Linked DNA regions of Homo sapiens. The protein of the gene in region 1 purifies or fractionates together with the protein of each later gene. This does not show direct contact. Each region holds a gene or a part of one and is shown on either strand. Other genes may lie near its edges.

What was found.
Region 2: the proteins of SFRP2 (region 1) and ARMC8 purify together in Homo sapiens (affinity purification with mass spectrometry; 3 studies listed by BioGRID and IntAct, with this or other methods). This does not show direct contact.
Region 3: the proteins of SFRP2 (region 1) and MKLN1 purify together in Homo sapiens (affinity purification with mass spectrometry; 4 studies listed by BioGRID and IntAct, with this or other methods). This does not show direct contact.

The regions. Positions count from the first base shown.
Region 1 is NC_000004.12:153,787,537-153,791,287, forward strand, and holds the start of SFRP2 (secreted frizzled-related protein 2 precursor), read right to left. Parts: upstream 1,548-3,751; 5' UTR 1,300-1,547; coding exon 798-1,299; intron 1-797. UniProt on the Homo sapiens protein: Soluble frizzled-related proteins (sFRPS) function as modulators of Wnt signaling through direct interaction with Wnts. They have a role in regulating cell growth and differentiation in specific cell types.
Region 2 is NC_000003.12:138,185,087-138,188,837, forward strand, and holds the start of ARMC8 (armadillo repeat-containing protein 8), read left to right. Parts: upstream 1-2,214; 5' UTR 2,215-2,468; coding exon 2,469-2,513; intron 2,514-3,314; exon of another isoform or gene 3,315-3,441; coding exon of another isoform or gene 3,442-3,444; intron 3,445-3,751. UniProt on the Homo sapiens protein: Component of the CTLH E3 ubiquitin-protein ligase complex that selectively accepts ubiquitin from UBE2H and mediates ubiquitination and subsequent proteasomal degradation of the transcription factor HBP1.
Region 3 is NC_000007.14:131,330,727-131,334,477, reverse strand, and holds part of MKLN1 (muskelin), read right to left. Parts: intron 1-3,751. UniProt on the Homo sapiens protein: Component of the CTLH E3 ubiquitin-protein ligase complex that selectively accepts ubiquitin from UBE2H and mediates ubiquitination and subsequent proteasomal degradation of the transcription factor HBP1.

The DNA.
Region 1 (3,751 bases):
GGTTTTCATTGCTTTGATGGTTTTTGCACAGGAACTCTCCCTCCGTTTTCTAAAAACTTGGGAATCTCTTTTGCATGATTTTCTCCAGCTAATCAAAACCACTCCTAAGTTAAAAACTGATAGCAATAGAAAAGTGATTTCCAGAGATTCCCTTTATGCCCTCTTCCTCAAGTATCTGAGCAGTTACAACCAATGTTCAATTTTCCACACACTCCGTGCCAGTCCCGGTTTTATTTCCAAAATCTAAATTGACAAAGGACAAAAAGACCCTTAAAAGGTTATCTACTTGTGCATCCTGGTTTTCCTTTCTGTACAGGAAATGTTCCTGTGACTAGAATCCTGCCCAGTGGTAGGAAGGTGCAGAATGAGGCTGAGCGAGGGGCCTCTGGCCAGAATGCTCACCACAAACTCCTCCACCAAACACCACTTCCAACGCTCTGCGCAGCTCCAGTGCTAGCATCTTTAACAATAATCGTGTATCTATTTTTTTTTAAACCGCCGTTCAGTTCTTCGTTTTTTTAGTTTTGTTGTTTTTGTTTGTTTGTTTTATTTTTAAACTGCCCTTAAGTATAGCTGGTACAACTCGGGAGGAGAATGCGCGAGACTTGGGCGGCGTGGGAGGGGTGCCTCAAATTTGATACAGGCTTGTTGTGATGACAGACCAGGTCAGGCAGAACTTCTGCCCTTCCCGCTACTGGCACCCCAAGCAGGGATGCACTGGGATGCGTGGCAGGGGCGGGATCTCCTGGGAGCGTCTCAGCCCAGCAGGGAGTGGGGAAGCAAGAGGGAAGGCTTACCTTCCTCGGTGGCTGGCAGGAGGTGGTCGCTGCTAGCGAGGGGGATGCAAAGGTCGTTGTCCTGGGGGAAACGGTCGCACTCAAGCATGTCGGGCCAGGGGAAGCCGAAGGCGGACATGACCGGGGCGCAGCGGTCCTTCACCTGCACGCAGAGCGAGTGGCATGGCTGGATGGTCTCGTCTAGGTCATCGAGGCAGACGGGGGCGAAGAGCGAGCACAGGAACTTCTTGGTGTCCGGGTGGCACTGCTTCATGACCAGCGGGATCCAAGCGCCGGCCTGCTCCAGCACCTCCTTCATGGTCTCGTGGCCCAGCAGGTTGGGCAGCCGCATGTTCTGGTATTCGATGCCGTGGCACAGCTGCAGGTTGGCAGGGATGGGCTTGCAATTGCTGCGCTTGTAGGAGAAGTCGGGCTGGCCAAAGAGGAAGAGCCCGCGCGCCGAGCCCAGGCAGCAGTGCGAGGCGAGGAAGAGCAGCAGCAGCGAGCCAGGGCCCTGCAGCATCGTGGGCGCGCGACCCCGAGGGGGCAGAGGGAGCGGAGCCGGGGAAGGGCGAGGCGGCCGGAGTTCGAGCTTGTCCCGGGCCCGCTCTCTTCGCTGGGTGCGACTCGGGGCCCCGAAAAGCTGGCAGCCGGCGGCTGGGGCGCGGAGAAGCGGGACACCGGGAGGACAGCGCGGGCGAGGCGCTGCAAGCCCGCGCGCAGCTCCGGGGGGCTCCGACCCGGGGGAGCAGAATGAGCCGTTGCTGGGGCACAGCCAGAGTTTTCTTGGCCTTTTTTATGCAAATCTGGAGGGTGGGGGGAGCAAGGGAGGAGCCAATGAAGGGTAATCCGAGGAGGGCTGGTCACTACTTTCTGGGTCTGGTTTTGCGTTGAGAATGCCCCTCACGCGCTTGCTGGAAGGGAATTCTGGCTGCGCCCCCTCCCCTAGATGCCGCCGCTCGCCCGCCCTAGGATTTCTTTAAACAACAAACAGAGAAGCCTGGCCGCTGCGCCCCCACAGTGAGCGAGCAGGGCGCGGGCTGCGGGAGTGGGGGGCACGCAGGGCACCCCGCGAGCGGCCTCGCGACCAGGTACTGGCGGGAACGCGCCTAGCCCCGCGTGCCGCCGGGGCCCGGGCTTGTTTTGCCCCAGTCCGAAGTTTCTGCTGGGTTGCCAGGCATGAGTGGGAGAGGGTGTGTGTGTGTGTGTGTGTGTGTGTGTGTGTGTGTGTGTGTGTGTTGGGGGGCTGCGTCCCTGGTAGCCGCGTGTGCCCTGTGATGGAGCCCGGGACCTGCCCGCCCGAGGCCGCCTCGGCGAACTTCGTTTTCCCTCGAATCTCCAGCCACCGTTCAGCAGCCTGTCGGTGTGCTCCCCAATGCCGTAAAAAAATCAGAATTATAAATATATTCGTATGAGCAGAACTTTACATGGAAAACGAAATACTAATAAAATGGGCTTGTTATTCTGTTGGAGTGAGTGCCTAGGAAGGGTTTCGTCGTTGTAGAAACGCCCCTACAAGAGTCTCACCAGTCACACAGGACTGCCCACCATTTCCCCGTTTTGGAGAGATTTTTCCTTCTTAAATGAATGGCATGACTCAATACTCGAAGGCATCACGGGCTCTAACACACAGCCGCCCTTGCAGCTGTGCGCTCTGGAAAGCTGGAGTATGGGCCCCCAGGGCACTGTTTGTAAAGACTGGTGGCCGGCACAAAAGACGGGCACAAAAGATGGGCAGGCTGGGAGGGAGCGAGGTAGAGGAAGGAGTCCTGCCTAGAGATCCACGAGGGCTAGAATTAGCTCATTCATCCCCTACGTACCAGGGGGCACCATGCTGGGCGCTGGATGTGCAGAAATGAACAAACAGGCCGGCCTCTGCTCTCGTGGAGCCTGGGATCTAGTGTCTCTGACTGCAAACAGTAAGTTCTGGGTTGGGGGGTGGGCTCCTTTTGCCTAATTGTCCCTAGTCTCCCTATGGGGACAGGAGGCCTTCGCTCTCCTCAGCCGCTGTCTCCGGGTGGCTGTGAAGATCCAAAGAGATAATCCCCGGAGGGCGAAGTTCTTTCATATGTAAGGTGGGCGCATTGTTATTACTTCCCGACCACTTAAGAGTCATTCACAGGCTCAGACCCCGGCTTCCTAATTTCCCTCCTTCCGGAAGATGCGTTGGCCTTGGCGGCTCCCAGGCCCAAGTTATCAGGCACACTTTGCGGTCCAGCTGCTTAGAGGAGCCGGGTAATGAATGAATGGGTGGCAAAAGCCCACTCAGTGTTATCTGCTGACCGTAAACACGCCAGGAAAATCGTCATCTGGAGAGAATGCACATTCTGAACTCCAAGAATCTGCGTCCCTAAGAGCCCAGCTTCCGGGTGCTCTGCTGGGGAAGGGCCCGGGGTAGCTGCAAAAGGCCTCTCTTTCCCCAAATTGGTTCAGGGCCTTTTCGTCTCTAACGAAAGCACCAAGAGGCCTAAAAGCCCCCTTCCCAACATAAACTACTTTGCAATGAAACCACAAAGGAAACAGAAGCACACCAAAAGAAAGAGCTAATAAAGAGCGTGAGCTCTGAGAGATGCTACGACTTGGGCCTGGGAGTGGGATAAGGGCCCTCTCGCTTTCACGCCCCCCCAACCCCCCGCCGGCCCCGGCCAACCCCTAAATCCCCAACGCCCTCCGCTGGGGTCGCCTCCTCCCCGCAGAGCCCCTTGTTGGGAGTTCAAGGAGCCCGAAGCTGGTCTGGCTGGTTTGAGCCCCGCGCTGCCGCACGCCCGGAAGTGGCTGGCGGCCCCCGCGCTCCGCGCGCCGGCTGCATTGTTTTGGGAGCCCTCGCTGCCCGGCTTGCCGCCAGGAGGTGCTGGGAGTCGCGCCTGAGTCTCCATCCCTGCCGTGCGCAGTGTCCACCTCTGGCCAGCTTGTTTGCCCGGCCCGCGGCGTCCCCTGCGGCCCATCGCTGCTCCTCCCGGAACCCACGCCACTTA
Region 2 (3,751 bases), on another chromosome or scaffold:
AGGAGTTGGCTATTCAATGCTTTCTTCCTGTAAAATGTCTATGTCAGTCTTCTGGATATAAAACAGGAAAGCCTGGGTAACAGACAGAGGTGTGAGATGTCTTGAGTCACATTTCTAGCTCCTCCCCGCTCGGATTTCAGCCACAGCAGCAGTGACAGTTCTGTGCAAGCTCAGATTTATGCTGCCTATATCCCACCCTAAGATGAAACCTGCAGACTCTGCTTTTTTGTATCAGGTTAAAGAAGCCCGTTCTGTTCTGGGCACAAATATAATCCAGGAGGGCAGGGAGTTAATAGCCCTAGGGAAATCCTCAACCAATACATATGGTATTGGTGGATGAATGCTGTAGCTTCAAGATGGACAATCCAGAGAGGTATTCTGTATGTTTTCAGAGGTGATTGAGGAATAAACAGTGGCATCAATAATGGACAATTATCTTGAATATTTATTCTTTCTTTTTTCACTCTCCCTGACCTATCAATTTTGTTCCCTGAAAGCACTTACTAAATAAACAAAATGCACCCAAATCTTCGTCCCAGGCTCAAACTAAGCCAAAAATTCGTACAACAAACATTTACTAAGTGACTGTGCTAGGCACTGAGATAGACAACCTAGAAGATAAAACTCCCAGTGCCTGTCTTGAAGTGTATAGTGAGACAAACACGGAAACAATTAACAACAACAAAACCACCCTACAATTAAAGTGAAGTATGAAGGCATGGGGGAAAGGGTATCTAACCCATGCCTGGGGGAGACAATTCCTGGAGGATGTATTGCTTGAGCTAATGGATGGAGTGTGGATCAAATACAGTTATAATGACTCTATATACTATGTATTAGGGTTATGTTCTGCCCCATTGCAGTATGCAGTACATGATGTGATTTTAGGTGGTCCATGGATGGACATTTAAACTTTTTGTAGTTAATGTGTACTAGAATAAAAATAAGGAGCACAACAAACTTGATTTCACAGAGTATTATGGTTTAGGATAAAGCCAAAAATTTTTAATGAGTTGAAATTGGCTTTAAATAAAAATATTGAATGAATAATAATACCTAGGTGCAGATTGGCAAAGATTGTGTAGGTGGTGTACAGATTACCCAAGTTTCAGAAATAGTATTATAGCAGAAGGACTACCTAAAATAAAATTCCTGCCTTCCAGGAATTCAACAGTTTGTTAAGGAACACAGACCCATAAGCAGGGGTGGTAAATGCTACACTAAATTTGGAAACCAAGTACAGGAGGAAGACAGGAAAACAGTGAGGAGCAGAGTGCGGGAGAGGCTACCAGCTACAAGACCAGTTGGAAGGCTATTGCTGTAGTCCAGGGGAGAGGTTACAAGAGCCTGAATTAGGGTGTGGCTATAGAAATGGAAGGAATACAAGTAATGTTAACAGGCCAATTGCAACCATACTGTGAAAACCTTACTGGTTGCAAGCAGTACGAAGGTGAAACTTATCCAACCAAGTCAAGGGCAGTGTTGCACACACACACACACACACACACAAAGTAGTAGGACAGCTGAATTAATCAAGTATAATTGAAAGCATACTTTTATTTAGCTTCGGTTATGAGAGTGTTTTAGTGCGAAATATTTAGATATTTGCCCCCATTTTCCCCACTTAACTCAGAAGCTGGAGAAATGTTAACACATATTGTATAACGCTTTCTATGTTCTAGGTTTTTTCTGAGAGCTTCACGTTTGTTGACTCCTCTATCCTCATTAACCTTTATTTTATAGATGAGGAAACTCAAACAGAAGGTTAGATAACTTGCCCAGGGTAAAGCAGCTGATAAATCAAGTAGCTAGGAAGAAACCCAAGCATTCTGGCTATTCTTAACACTACACCAGAATAAACGGGGCCGGCACACAACGCTAAGGCAAGTCACGTATCTGTATCGGATCGTGAAACAATCACTCTTACGGTTGGCAAAGGTTCTGGGATCGCAATTTCCCCACCTATAAAATGGAGATAACGACGCCGGGAGTTTGGTGCAGAGAGAGAGAATGAATATGAAAGTGAACTTCAAACTATGTATGTGGCTCCACGTACTACTTTTTCCAAATATGAATACTGGAATCCATAAACTGCAATTTATCAGTCCGTAAAACTCGTAGCGTCAGGGCGAGACTCCGCCTCTGGGGCCCCGCCCACCGCGAGCGGCAGGTGGGGCCGGCAGATCTTCTTTGCGCATGCGGAAACCGCTGCCCGCTTCCACCTCTAACCCAGGCTCAGAGTAGCTGCTGTTTCTGAGAGAACGATTCGTAGGACAGCCCCTGACGCCATTCCCTTTTGCCCTTCTTTCTGCGGGCCTTTCCGGTACTTGAGCGGTGTCCAGAGCGTGGCCAGTTCTCGTCTATCTGGCTGCCTTTAGGGAGCGGTGCCTAGCGTTGGCCAATAGTTGGCTGTCGAAAGTGCCGGCCCCCGCGCCGGCGCCTGCAGCAGCCGGGTGGGAAGGCTCAAGATGGCGTGCTTGTTGGAGACCCCAATCCGCATGAGCGTCCTTTCGGTGAGTGACCCGCCGCGGCCGCCCGCCCGCCCTCCAGGAAGCCTCATCCCGGTCTCCACCATTCCCCCAAGCGTGGTGTGCCTCCTGGGCACCACCCCCTGGGGTGGACCCCGGCTCAGTCTCGGGCCAGGGAGTGAGCGAGGGTGGAGAGGCGGGATAGACGGGCAGAGGGGACCGCGGCCGAGCCAAAGACGTTTCCAACTCCGGGAGCTCCCGCCGGTGCGGGTTCCCAGGATGGCGTCTGGCAGGCGGGGTGGCTGGGCTTATAGACAACTGGCTGGGCGGCGCGGCTTGGACTTTGCCAAGCGTTTCACTGAGCCTTCCTTTTAGCGATGCCGCTTCCCGGGGGCCGAACGCTCTGCCTTGTGAAGCGCCGGGCTTGCAGCCGGCCTGAGAACGAGCGCCCACTCAGCTCTCCCGGGCTTTGGCAAGAAGAGGTGCAGGCTCCTTGGCCCCCATTTCCTCAGAGCTGCCAGGCCAAGTCTGTGCGGCTTCTATCGCGTCCCAGCACCTGGGCACCGGCTGAAGCAGTTTGCTTTTTGGCAATGGTGATTCGTATCAGCTGCAACTCTTCCTAGTGTGTGTGGTTTTTTAAGCCCCTTTCCTCCGCTCTGCTCAGAGGTCGCGGCTCTGAGTCAGAGGAACTCTATGTTCCCTGTGCCTGGTATTCCGTTTTTCTTTAAGGGGAGTCAAACATTGAAGGGGGGAAAAGGGGGTGAGATTTATTTCCCCATTGTTGAAAGAAGGGAACGTATTGACATGCCAGGAAGTAAAACCTGTTTTTTTTTTTTTTAAAAAAAGTTTTTTTAAAGAAAAAGACGACTTTCACCTTTCACTATGTTGCTCTTGAACCAGGACCAGGAATGAAAGTTACTGGGAGATAACTTCGAAGGATTTTGCAACAAATTCGAGCTGTCCGACTCTGAGAATGGTCAGTTTACCAATGGTTCATTTGCTATTGTTGGAAACAAGCAGGCAAATACTGATTGACCATCTTTTAGACTTGTGGAAGCCAGTCTGATACTGAGAGGGTAGTTGGATTATAAATGACTTGTCGGGTTCCTAGAGTCTTGTAACTACAACCGGTTTCTTTTCTCTTCTCTGACTTGTCCCACAAACAAACTCACCTATCTGAAAACACCTAGGACATTTGCTTATGATTCAGGGTTAGAGCAGTGTGGCAGACCTCAACCTTGAAAAGGCTTAAGTTGTCAATACAATAATAATTTTGTGAGGCT
Region 3 (3,751 bases), on another chromosome or scaffold:
GAATCAGCTCTGTAGACTCAAATTCTCATCCTGAGTACATTTCTTCCATCTTGAGTGTTTTTATTTTTCTGAAGTTCTAAGAGTCCCAGACTGAAAAACACAGAACTTTCAGTGGCCAGTAAGGTTCCCAAACAGGGCCAGTGTCCTTAAATCTCAGTTTAAGATAGGGAGAAAAGGGAGAAAAGGAAGGGCATAATAGTATCCGGTCTCCTGGGAGTTGCATGCCTCCAAACTAGTGGTTCACAAATTCTGGGTTGCAGGAGCCTACAGAATTATTGTAACAAGACCTCAAATCCATTTTCATAACCACCATTATCTGTACACCAAATACAATAAATATATTCTATTTTTCAACTATATGTGATTAATAAAATCAAAATTCACTTAAAAGCTAAAGTAAAGGGATAGAGAAGGAAGAAACAAAAAAGTTATTGGGAGCATTATCACTTTTGAATTATATAAGCATCCTCTAGACATCTCTACGGACCTGTCTCTGATTTAAATATGTTTTCTTCCAAATTACCAAGGATAATGCCAAAATGAACTCAGAGTAGTCTACACAGATAGAAGGAAAATAAACTGATACCTTTAATCCAGCAACTCAACATCTAGGAATTTATCACCAATGAGTTCAAAATTTTTTTCCAGGCTGGGTGTGGTGGCTGTAATCCCAACACTTTGGAAGGCCGAGGTGGGCGGATCACCTGAGGTCAGGAGTTCGGGACCAGCCTGACCAACACGGAGAAACCCCGTCTCTACTAAAAATACAAAAAATTAGCTGGGTATGGTGGCACATGCCTGTAATCCCAGCTACTTGGGAGGCTGAGGTAGGAGAATCGCTTGGACCCGGGAGGCAGAGGTTGCGGTGAGCCGAGACTGCGCCATTGCACTCCAGCCTGGGCAATAAGAGCGAAACTCCGTTTCAAAAAAAAAAAAATTTCTGTAAAGCAAAACTACCTCATGACTCATAATAGTCAAATAACAAGAAACACAAATGAAAATAAAATAAAACCACAAAGCCTAAATGTCTAATAACACGGGACCAATTAAACAAAATGACATAAAGTCATTACATGGAATATAATGTATCCATAATAAATTTTGGCTGGGCACAGTGGCTCACACCTACAATCGCAGCACTTTGGGGCACTGAGGTGAGAGGATCACTTGAGCCCAGGAGCTGGAGACCAGCCTGGGCAACATAGTGGGACCCCATCTCTACAAAAAAATTTAAAAAATTAGCCAGGCATGGTTGGCTGGGCATGGTGGCTCATGCCTGTAATCCCAGCACTTAGGGAGGCCAAAGCAAGTGGATCATTTGAGGTCAGGAATTCAAGACCAGCCTGGCCAACATGGTGAAACAGTGTCTCTACCAAAAATACAAAAATTAACCAGACGTGGTGGTGCACGCCTGTAATACCAGCTACTTAGGAGGCTGAGGCACAAGAATTGCTTGAAGCCAGGAGGCAGAGTTTGCAGTGAGCCAAGATGGTGCCACTAAATTCCAGTCTGGGTGACACAGCGAGACTCCATCTAAAAAAAAAAAATTAGCCAGGCGTGATGGCATGTGCCTGTAGTCCCAGCTACTTGAGAAACTGGGGCTGGAGGATCGCTTGAGCCCAGGAGGTCGAGGCTGCAGTGAACTATGATCATGCCACTGTACTCCAGCATGGGTGACAGAGCAAGACCCTGTCCCTTTAAAAAAAAAGAAAAAAAATACAATATAGAAGAATATTTAATAACATAAGGAAGTATTTACTATATGTTAAGGAGGAAAAAGCAAATACAGAACAGCAAACAGGACAACAGTAAATTGAAAAATACATACATCTACAGTAAAAGATCTGGAATGATAATAAACAGTATTTAAAGGGTGACTAGTAATCTTTAGGTAGTGATATCAAGGGTAATTTAAATTTTGTTTCTGTGGGTCCATATTTTACAAATATTCGATAATAAACATAGAGCATTTTTTACATCAAAATATATATTAAAAGATATATAAAATATATTTTAATATATATGATATAAAAAGTGTCTATTTTTTTCTTAGACATGGGGTATTGACGAGATGCTGTCTTTTTCTTTTGTAGAGACAAAGAAGAAAAGAATATATATATATTTACATATTTTTAACATAATAATATATAACTATGCACATATATTTTATGTAATAAAAATATATAAATATTTATATATTTTTTTTCTTTTGTAGAGATGGGGTATGTTTCCCAGGCTGGTCTCAAACTCCTGGTCTCAAGTGATGGTCCTGCCTCAGCCTCCCAAAGTGCTAGGATTACAGGCATGAGCCACCGTGCCTAGCCTATATTCATTTTTAAATGTGAAATTTTAAAATTAGTTTTGAAAAGAGTTGAAATAAATTCACCTTCTATTCTAGTTGTCAAATCATAACACTTGTACTCTGAACCATGAATCAATCACATGTTGACACAAGGTACTATTTTAAGTACTATTTGATTTTAAGTAATAAGACTAACAGGAAAAAGGTAAACACACTTAAAAATCTATCAGATTTTATCATCTAAATTATCTAAGTCATTCAATAATATGTAAACAAGATAAGAATCATTCTATACCAATGAAATTACCTAATATGTAAAAAATACTTTCAAAGTTTCTCCCAGTTCTCATATGAGTATACTAAAATCTTAAACATCAAGATAAAATCTATTTTTCCCTCTCTTGCTGTTCTAACCTTAGAGCGCTTATCTGTAATCTCAATTAGACATATACAATAGCCATGTATAATAATGAACAGCTTTCGTAACAGAAGTCAAAAGGCCCAATATGAGAACCTTATCACCTACATTTTCTTCCTCCTCATCATTATTATTATTGCAGATGGGGTCTCATTGTGTTGCCCATGCTGGTCTCAAACTCCTGGGCACAAGTGATCCTCCTGCCTTGGCCTCCCAAAGTGCAGGGATTACAGGTGTGAGCCACCCTGCCCTGCCCCTCTTACATTTTCAACTCTTAGACCTGGGCAAGTTAACTTACCTCCCTAAATCTCACTTTTCCTAGCTCTAAAATAGAATAATAATATTTATCTCATAGGGTTTTTGTGAAGACTATTATATCAAAGAACACATGCTAAATGCTCAGTACAGTGCCTGAAGAATAGAAAGTACTCAATAAGTGGTGACTGTTATTAAAGTCACAATGCAATAGTTTTTAAGTCAGAAAACCTGGCAAGCCTCTGGAAAACTATATGACCCTGGGCAAGCTACTTACCCTGTATGGACCTCAGTTTCATCCTCCACAAAACATATATAAAATACCTATCTTACAGGTATGTACCAAGAATTAAACAAAACTGTATACAAAAAGCATCTTGCATATATTAGGTGCTCACTAAATTGTAACTAGCATCATTATTAGATACAAAAATAAACATTTGAGTACAGGGATTAGCAGTTTACAAAATATTTTTATGTATAAGAGTATATGTAATTTTATGAATTATTTAAATAAGTGTATTTAATTATTAAATTAGGTGTAAATTTCAGAAAAAAAGTAAAATACAGGCAATCTCTAAGCACACAAAAATAAAAGGCCTTTTTTTAGTCTCAAAGTAAAAATGTGTTCCCTATAACTGAATCTGCTTTAACATTTTTAAAGTCCAAATAAATTAAAAAGAGTTGAAAGGGGAAATATTTGTTTTTTCTGCCTCTGGAAGAAGGGGAAAAGAATTCTAAGTCCTTAGAAAGAAAATAGAGATAAAATTGTTCAA